Regions from separate parts of the Homo sapiens genome. Here regions 2 and 3 are each linked to region 1. The links come from fine-mapping of genetic effects on gene expression. A gene starts in region 1. Each other region holds a variant in brackets. All regions are shown on one strand. Distances are between the middles of the regions. Region 1 holds the start of TOP3B (DNA topoisomerase III beta). Region 2 overlaps PPM1F (protein phosphatase, Mg2+/Mn2+ dependent 1F). Region 3 overlaps PPM1F (protein phosphatase, Mg2+/Mn2+ dependent 1F).

The links. PIP is the estimated chance that this variant, and not a neighbour inherited with it, causes the effect.
Region 2: its variant is the best candidate, but not a certain one, in a credible set for the expression of TOP3B in whole blood (INTERVAL, PIP 0.90).
Region 3: its variant is the best candidate, but not a certain one, in a credible set for the expression of TOP3B in lung (TOPMed, PIP 0.55).

What each region holds. Positions count from the first base shown.
Region 1 is chr22:21,981,606-21,984,358 of GRCh38, reverse strand. It overlaps TOP3B (DNA topoisomerase III beta), which reads left to right and starts at 1,572. Exons shown (of 18, transcript NM_001282112.2): 1 at 1,572-1,629. RefSeq lists enhancers at 1,393-1,687, 1,185-2,171.
Region 2 is chr22:21,941,973-21,944,725 of GRCh38, reverse strand. All of the region lies in intron 2 of PPM1F (protein phosphatase, Mg2+/Mn2+ dependent 1F), which reads left to right. It overlaps PPM1F-AS1 (PPM1F antisense RNA 1), which reads right to left. Exons shown (of 2, transcript NR_147620.1): 2 at 1,292-2,753. Among named protein-coding and RNA genes, the nearest start is that of PPM1F-AS1, 5.1 kb to the right of the region's middle. RefSeq lists an enhancer at 292-791. The variant G/A (reference allele first, on the strand shown) is at 1,137.
Region 3 is chr22:21,926,164-21,928,916 of GRCh38, reverse strand. The region is part of intron 6 of PPM1F (protein phosphatase, Mg2+/Mn2+ dependent 1F); the gene reads left to right. Among named protein-coding and RNA genes, the nearest start is that of PPM1F-AS1, 11 kb to the left of the region's middle. The variant C/T (reference allele first, on the strand shown) is at 1,388.

The DNA of each region.
Region 1 (2,753 bases):
CAGAGCCTCTATCCAGACTACTTATTATTTATCAAAATAAATTAGATAAATAAATAACTTAATTTTAGAATTCATCTTCCAGATATACTTTACACAGATCATTCCAATAAAGGCAGGTTGGGGCCCGGGACAGTGGCTCACCCCTGTAATCCCAGCACTTTGGGAGGCCGAGGCAGGAGGATCACTTGAGGCCAGGAGTTTGAGACCAATCTGGGCAACATAGTGAGACCCTCCCCCTAGACCCCATCTCTACCAAAAAAAAAAAAATTAATTGGCTGGGCTTGGTGGCTGGCACCTGTGGTCCCAGCTACTGGGGAGGCTGAGGTGAGAGCATCGCCTGACGCCAGGAGATCGAGGCTGCAGTGAGCTGTGATCTCGCTACTGCGCTCCAGCCTGGGTGACAGAGTGAAACCCTGTCTTTAAAAAAAAAAAAAAAAAAACAGCAGGTTGGGAAAATCTACAAGGAACAAGGGCAATGTGTGTATGTTATTTAAAATAAGATCATAAAACGTATTTTAAACCTTCCATAATCCTAATGCTCTAACAAATAAATTAGTTGGCCGAGCGTGAAGAGTCACACCTGTAATCCCAGCATTTTGGGAGGCCGAGGGAGGCGGACCACCTAAGGTCAGGAGTTCAAGACTAGCCTGGTTAACACGGTGAAACCCCCGTCTCTACTAAAAATATAGAAATCTTTGGGAGGCCAAGGCGGGCGGATCACGAGGTCAGGAGATCGAGACCATCCTGGCTAACACGGTGAAGCCCCGTCTCTACTAAAAAAATACAAAAAATTAGCCCGCGTGGTGGCAAGCGCCTATAGTCCCAGCTACTTGGGAGGCTGAGGCGAGATCATCGCTTGAACCCGGGAGGCGGAGGTTGCAGTGAGCCGAGATTGCGCCACTGCACTTCAGCCTGGGCAACAGAGTGAGACTCCGCCTCAAAAAAAAAAAAAAAAATATATATATATATGTATACACACACATATATATACATACACATATAAATTAGCTGGGCGTGGTGGCGCACGCCTGTAATCCCAGCTATTTAGGAGGCTGAGGCAGGCGAATTGCTTGAACCTGGGAGGCGGAGGTTTCAGTGAGCCGAGATCACACCACTGCACTCCAGCCTGGGCGACAAGAGTAAAACTCTGTCTCAAAATAAATAAATAAATAAATAAATAAATAACTTAATTTTAGAATTCATCTTCCAAATATATTTTACACAGATCATTCATTCATTCCACAGATTTTTTTACAGCATCGAAAAGAAGCCTGCTATACACACATCGGTACATTTTTATTATTTTAATTATTAACAGCATAAATGTTTTCATGCCAGTTTTCATAATCATTGTAATGATAATTGTCATGATTGTCTCTCCGTGGCGGGGAAGAATCTGGGTGCAGGGCTTGGGGATCCCTGCGGTCCGCGGCGTGCAAGTGCCACTCCCTGGGGTGCTCCCGGAATCCGCGAGCCACGGAACCTAAGAACGCCGACCCGCCGGAGCCGGAGGGCAGACGCTGGCACACCGGACGCGGGGACGCCAGAAGCGGCTGGACCCGGAAATAGGGGTTGTCGGTAGCCGCCCCGGGAACAAGGACCGGAGCTGGATCCGCGGTGCGGCTGTGGGTGAGCGGCGGGCTGCGGGACCCTCGCCCGGCGGCTCAGAAAGGCGGGAAGCGCACGCATTTTTCTGGCTTGTTTCCTGAACGTTGGCCGGCGGAGGACCCGCGAGCTCGGGAGAGCGCCCGGGCCGGGCTCTGCATTCTTGTTGCCTCTTCCCTGGCGGGGGTGATACTCTCCCGCGGGGCTTGCTGTGGGGGTTCAGGGAGGTGGAGATGGGCCCGCCATGTGCCTGCAGGGAGCAGGCGCTGTGGTTAATACTTTTCTTCTTCGAACCCTCCCACAGCTCTTTAGGGTGAGATCTGCTGTACCAGTCTCACAGGTAGGGAAACTGAGGCTCAGGGAAGCTGTGCAGCCACCGGGGCCCAGATCGGTGCGGTACACACCCAGGCAGCTTCCACTCGCCGCCCCCTAGGCCCTGGCTGGGTTTTGAGGGCACCCAGGTTCTCTGACCTGTTATCTGTAAATGAAGTAGGGTACTTTTGTGAACAAATTAGCTGGAATCCAGGGGCAATAATTTCTCGCAGAAGTGAAAGGTAAGATGTTCCTAGTCTTGCCTTTTTATCTTCTCACCTTTTGAAACAGGACCTGAGAGGCCAGCCTAACTTGGGCTTGATGGCCAGCCAGTCCTGGGATTCTTTTGCCAAGGTCACCTGACACTAGTGTGACTTGTTCTGAACCTCCATTTACTCACAGTTTTAAAAAATTACAACACCTGCCTTATGGGGTTGCTGGCGAGATTGAATAGTGTTGATAGCTATGGTGTGCCTACTACAAAGGAGGAGCTTAAGAAATGGTTGTTTCCCTCTTTTCCTGATTCTAGAAGCATTTGGTAAAGTTACTGAGGTGGTAAATCCTAGGAATTTTAATGCTATTCAGACCACTGCTAGGCCTACTCCCAGGCCACATCTGCTTGTTTCTTTTTTTGTTTGTTTTGTTGCAGGCAGAGTCTCACTCTGTCACCCAGGCTGGAGTGCAGTGGCGCGATCTCAGCTCACTGCAACCTCCGCCCCCGGGTTCAAGTGATTCTCCTGCCTCAGCCTCCTGAGTAGCTGGGATTACAGGCATGCGCCACCACGCCCAGCTAATTTTTGTATTTTTAGTAGAGACCAGGCTTCACCATGTTGGCC
Region 2 (2,753 bases), 40 kb after region 1:
GACAAGGTCTTTTCTCGAACCCTCTCTGCTCAGACAGGGTCTTGGAGTTAGGCTGTCTGTCTGGCACAGGGGACAGCTCATGGAGGTGAGCAGGCTGGTGGGCCGCGTGCTGTTTCTGTGAACCTAGTCCCTTGCTGAGGGGATGTGCGCATGGTCCCCAGTCCCAGCATCACCCAAATCACCTGAAATATCACCTGAAGCCATGACAGGCCCTCAGCCATAGCTCCCTCTGACAGAGCCACCATCCTCGGTGGCTGCCTCAGTATCCCCCAAGTGTGCACTTCCTTTGCCCCTTGCAGCGAATCAACTCTGTTCCTGACACCCACCAAGGGCCTATTTTCCTTGACCCCAGGCCCTAGCAGAGTCAGTGACTTGTGCTCTCCCTGTGCAACATGGGCACAAACATTGCTAAGTGTCAGCCACATGCAAGGGCTATGCCACCCAGCATCCCCCACAGCTGCCTAGAGCTCAGGAGGAAATGTCCGGTGACCACGCTCCATGAGGTCATGGCATGCGCAAAGGGTGTTATTGGCTTGTTTTGAGGAAATATTTTAGATATGTGGCACAAAGTGAATCAGCCCCCAGTGGTGGAGCAGAGTGGGCCCAGCAGGGGTGCCAATGCACGGGAGGTGAGGAAAGGCCTCACGTTCTGCCTTCTTGAGAGGAGCAGGTGGCACTCTGCAGGGAGCAGGGGAGTCCAGACCAGGGAGTTCTGCAGCCACTGGGTCTTCGTGGAGGTGGCATGGGGCCATTGCTGCCTTGAGGCAAAAAGCCAGGCCCGGGACAGAAGGGTTGGTGCACTTTGGCCCAAGCATGAGGTGACCGGGCAAAGCCAAGCGGTGCCAGCCCCAAGCTGGGGATCAGATGGAAAAGCCATCCCGGGGAACAACAGAGCCCAGGGGTTTGCTGGGCCTGCGTGGGGCACAGGTGCTGAAGACGGACAGGCCGCAGCACCGGGGTGACAACATCAGCCTTCAGTTCCTGGGCAGGGGGAGAAGGGCGCAGAGCAGGGTCCCAGGGAAGGATCCAAGGTGGGAGGGCCTGGAGGGCTGAGGAGTGAGTAGGCAGTGCAGGTGACCTGCCCAGGAGGGCCCCGAACCAAAGTGTTGGGGTCAGTGCTGGGGGCGCAGGGGAGG[G/A]CAGTGGGTTTTGGTTTTGATGCGAGAGCAGCCAGACTTGTTGAGCGGCTGCTGTGTGAGCCACCTAGTGATGGGTGCGAGCAGGAGGGGTGCAGAGCTCCCGAGTCTCCTCAGCCCCCAGGAACCCACCTTACATGGTGAACTAAAATGGAGTATTTGAAGTTGTTATATGTTCCAGCCATCTTATTGGATTTATTTTTTAAGTTATTTTTGTTCTTTTCTAGCATCTTCTTTCACACGCAGGTGTGGATGTGCATAGGTGTAGTCAGCACTTGGGGTCTGAGCCTCACACGTTGTCTACACTAAGCCTGGCTGTCCACACACACGCACTCACATGTGCCCATACACAGTCACGAGTTCCACCTCCGAGCTCTGCTTCCCGTGTCCCAGCCTGAGGAGGGGCTCTTGGGCATGAAGGGCTTTGAGCATCTTGGTCCCTGAGCTCTTTCACAGACCGTAAAAGGCATCCTTCTGGAGGCCATCCAGGAGTCAGAACATCCAGTCCACAGGGGGCTATTTACGCCTTGTCTCCGCTCTTGTTTGGAGCCTCCTGTCACATATTTGAGTCCCTGAGCAGTGCATACCGTACACTAATGATTTGAGTGTGGTTTTTGTCTCTGCCACTAGACTATAAGCCTCTTGTAACAGCCCCTGCCCCAAGGTCGGTGAGACGTGTTTCTCAGGCACCTGGGCCTTGCATACACCTTGGCTTGTCCCTGGAGCATCTTCTTGCCTTGTGTAGGAGCCTGCTCTGCAGGGACCAGAATCAGGGTGGATCTGCATGGTGCAGTGACTCAGGGCTGAGGGCCTCTAGGGCGTGTCCCAGGCCAGACCCTGGGATGAGGCGGGAGCTGTGTCCAGGAAGAGGACGATGGTGGCCCTTGGCCAGGCATTGTCTGGGTCCCCACAGCCGGAAACTGCCTCCCTGCCCCAGCAGCAGTGGCGGGTGGGCAGGAAGCTGAGGCCTGGCCTCACCGGGACCAAGGGAAACAGGCGTCCTTCCTCCCTGCTGTGCAAAAGGAAAACCCAGCAGTTGGCAGGAAACCCCCAAATGGCAGAGGAACTAATTTCTCATGTCTTGGCTGGTTGTTTTTCAAAGGCAGTTCCAGAGGCTTCTCCCATGAGTCACCCTTTCATTTTAAAAATCACGAATCTGCTGAGCATGGTGGCTCATGCCTGTAATCCCAGCTACTCAGGAGGCTGAGGCAGGAGAATCACTTGAACCCGAGAGGTGGAGGTTGTGGTGAGCTGAGATCACGCCATTGCACTCCAGCCTGGGCAACTAGAGCGAAACTCCGTCTCAGAAAAAAAAAAAAAAAAATCAGGAATCCATCCCGGTAGATTCCTCAGACCATCAGTAGATACCTTGGGTGCCCAGCCCCCATGGAACAAGACCTGTCAGCCTGTGCTGTTGGAAGGTCCTCGCCTTCCAGTTAAAGCCGGGAGTGTCGGCCCAGTGCAGAATCACCTCGCCACCCCAGGCATGCTCCCCTGACCCCCACTCTCAGGGACAGGCACACAGGGGTGAATGTGTGTTGTCCAGCTTCCAGGGCCCCCACTGGGTGAGAAGGCAGATTCCAGGGGTCAAAATGCATGTTAGAGGCCATAGGGCCACTG
Region 3 (2,753 bases), 55 kb after region 1:
GGACCCACTTCCTGCCTCTAAGTCTAATGGGGGAGCAGGAGGAGGGCAAGGACCTGGCAGGATGAGGCAGAGAGATGAATGGAATGGAGCCGCATCTCAGGCAGTTGCAATTCCTGCAGGCCAGGGGAGAGACCAGGAGGAAAGGGCAGGTTATGCCAGAATCAGGGCCAGGTGTGGAGGTGTGCCCCAAGTGATCCTCCCACCTCTCAAGCCTCAGGAGACAGGAGGATGGCTTGAGCCCTAGAGGTTGAGGCTGCAGTGAGCTATGTTCATGACACTGCACTCCAGCCTTGGCAACAGAGTGAGACCCTGTCTTCAAAAAACAAAAACAAGCCCCAGAATCAGTGGGTAGAAGACTCGGGGCAGGGGAGAAGACCACCCACCTGCTGCTCCTTCAGCTGGAAAAGCTGGACTGCCCCAGGCTGGGAGGAACTCTGTAAGGACTCACTAGAAGCTTCTGAAGTGATCAGGCCACTGGAGGACAAGTTGAGGGCTGGGTCACAAAAGTGAGTTCAGGAGGGCAGTGAGAGTCACTCAAGGTCACAGGTCACGCTGGCACGCCTGGCAGGCAGCCTGGGAGAGATAGGAGTCCCGGCTCTGCAGGTGGAGACATCGCAGAGGGCCTTGGGCATCCAGGAGGATGGCAGTGCCATAGGCGACGCTGCTGCGGCCTGGCCGTGTGGAGCACTGCACTCCTAGGAAGCAGGAAATGGCTGTTCACAGGAACCCACAGGCCACCGGCTCCAGCTTTGACCTGGGAAGCTGTTTCAGGCAGGTGGAGAGGATGAGGTTTGAGGAGCAGAGGGAAGAGCTGCTGAGGGGGTGGGCGCTGGGCAGTCGGGAGGCGAAGGCAGGAGATGGCTTGAGCCCTAGAGGTCGAGGCTGCAGTGAGCTATGTTCATGACACTGCACTCCAGCCTTGGCAACAAAGCAAGACCCTGTCTCCAAAAAAAAAAAAAAAAAAAAAAAAAAAACAAAACAAAAAACAGAATCAAGAATCAGTGACTAGGAGACTCAGGGGGAATGGGACAAGACCCCTTAGCCTGGGGATATGTTAGTCCCGGACCAGACTGAGCCTGGCCAGTGTGTGACGGAGGTGGGAGCCACTGGAGGGGAGGAGGACCCAGGTTCAGGGCCAGGGTTAGAGGGGCGAGCCCGGGGAGCCGGCGCAGCCTGTCCAGCACAGGGGGTGCAGAATGGCAGGAGAGGGGATCACAGGCTGCAGGGGAGCAGCACAGCCCCTGTGCCCTCCTGCCCTTTGGCTCCACCCTGTCCCACAGCCATCCCTGGTGGTGGGGAGGGGCTTCAGGTAGGAAGGTTCTAAGCTTAGCCTGCATGGCCCCCTGTGGGGGAGAGCCACCTCCAGAGGGCATGGGAAGCAGATTGC[C/T]GTTCATTCTCCATCACCTGCCCACATTCCTGCCTCTGGGACATTGAGGGGCTGGAGTGGGCTGGGGTGTGTGGGAGACAGAAGCAGAGAAAGGCTCCTCATTCTCCCTGGAGCCTCCCACGCTCACAGCCCCTCCCCAGGGAACGCCTCTGAGGCACAGGGGAGGAGGCGCTGCTTCCTCTGCAGCTCCTCGCCGTCTGCAGGCGCCTTCACGCGTGTGTGTGGGCACATGTATGTGTGAACATTCGTGCGTACTCTGTGTTCATCCACCTGCCTCTCCCCGTGCCCTTTCTCCTGCCCTCTTCTTGGCTGTCTCCTGCTCTTCCCTCCTTCCTGGTCCTCCTTGCCTTTCCCTTGCCCTGCTCAGACCCCGGAGGTGGCAGATCTTAGACCCAGAGAGAGCCTTGAGGTCCCTGTTCCTGCCCCCTTCATGGCTTGATTCTCCACCTCAGCTGGGACAGGAGCACCCAGCCTACCAGGCACTGGTCCAGTTCCCACACAGGCTCATGGCTGCAGTGCCCAGGAAGGCCGGGACTCCTGCAAACCCATGTCATTCCCACCACAATGCCCTCTGCAGGGGAGCCACATAAAGAGGCCTGGTCCTTGGTGCAGGCATCTGGAGAGGGCTGCCTCCCCCAGGCCTCCCGCAGTGCATGTCCGTCTGCTCTGGGGAGGGAATTGGCTGATATCCCAATCTGTCTAGGGGACACCATCACCTGGGGCATCAGAGTTCTCATGCCCAGCTGGTGCTGTGCCTGGGGACTAGAAGGGCTGGTGCTGCGTGGGGTCAAGAGGTTTACCTGATAAACCGGTAAGGGATGCCCTCTTCCCCCAGTAGACTTGGGAGGTGCCTCACTCCCAGGGTGCCTCCGTCACTCTGTCAGGGATGCTGTTGTGCAGGCTTCAGTCAGCAGGCTCTCATCGGGGCAGCCTCTCCTTTGGGCAGAGGCTGATAGGACCAAAGAGGTTTCTAGAGGACTTGTGGGTGGACCAAGCCTCTGTCCTGTCCCTGGAGGAACCCAGGCCTGGGGTGTTGTGGTCCCCAGCTGAGTGGAGACTGTGCCTGTGCTGAGCTTGGGTAGAGGAGGACAAGAACTAGGCCAGGCGCGGTGGCTCACACCTGTAATCCCAGCACTTTGGGAAGCCGAGGAGGGTGGATCATGAGGTCAGGAGATCGAGACCAGTCTGGCCAACTTTGAGAAACCCTGTCTCCATTAAAAACACAAAAAAATTAGCTGGGCATGGTGGCACGCCCCTGTAGTCACAGCTACTCAGGAGGCTGAGGCAGGAGAATCACTTGAACCCAGGAGGCAGAGGTTGTAGTGAGCCAAGATCGTGCCACTTCACTCCAGCCAGGTGACAGAGC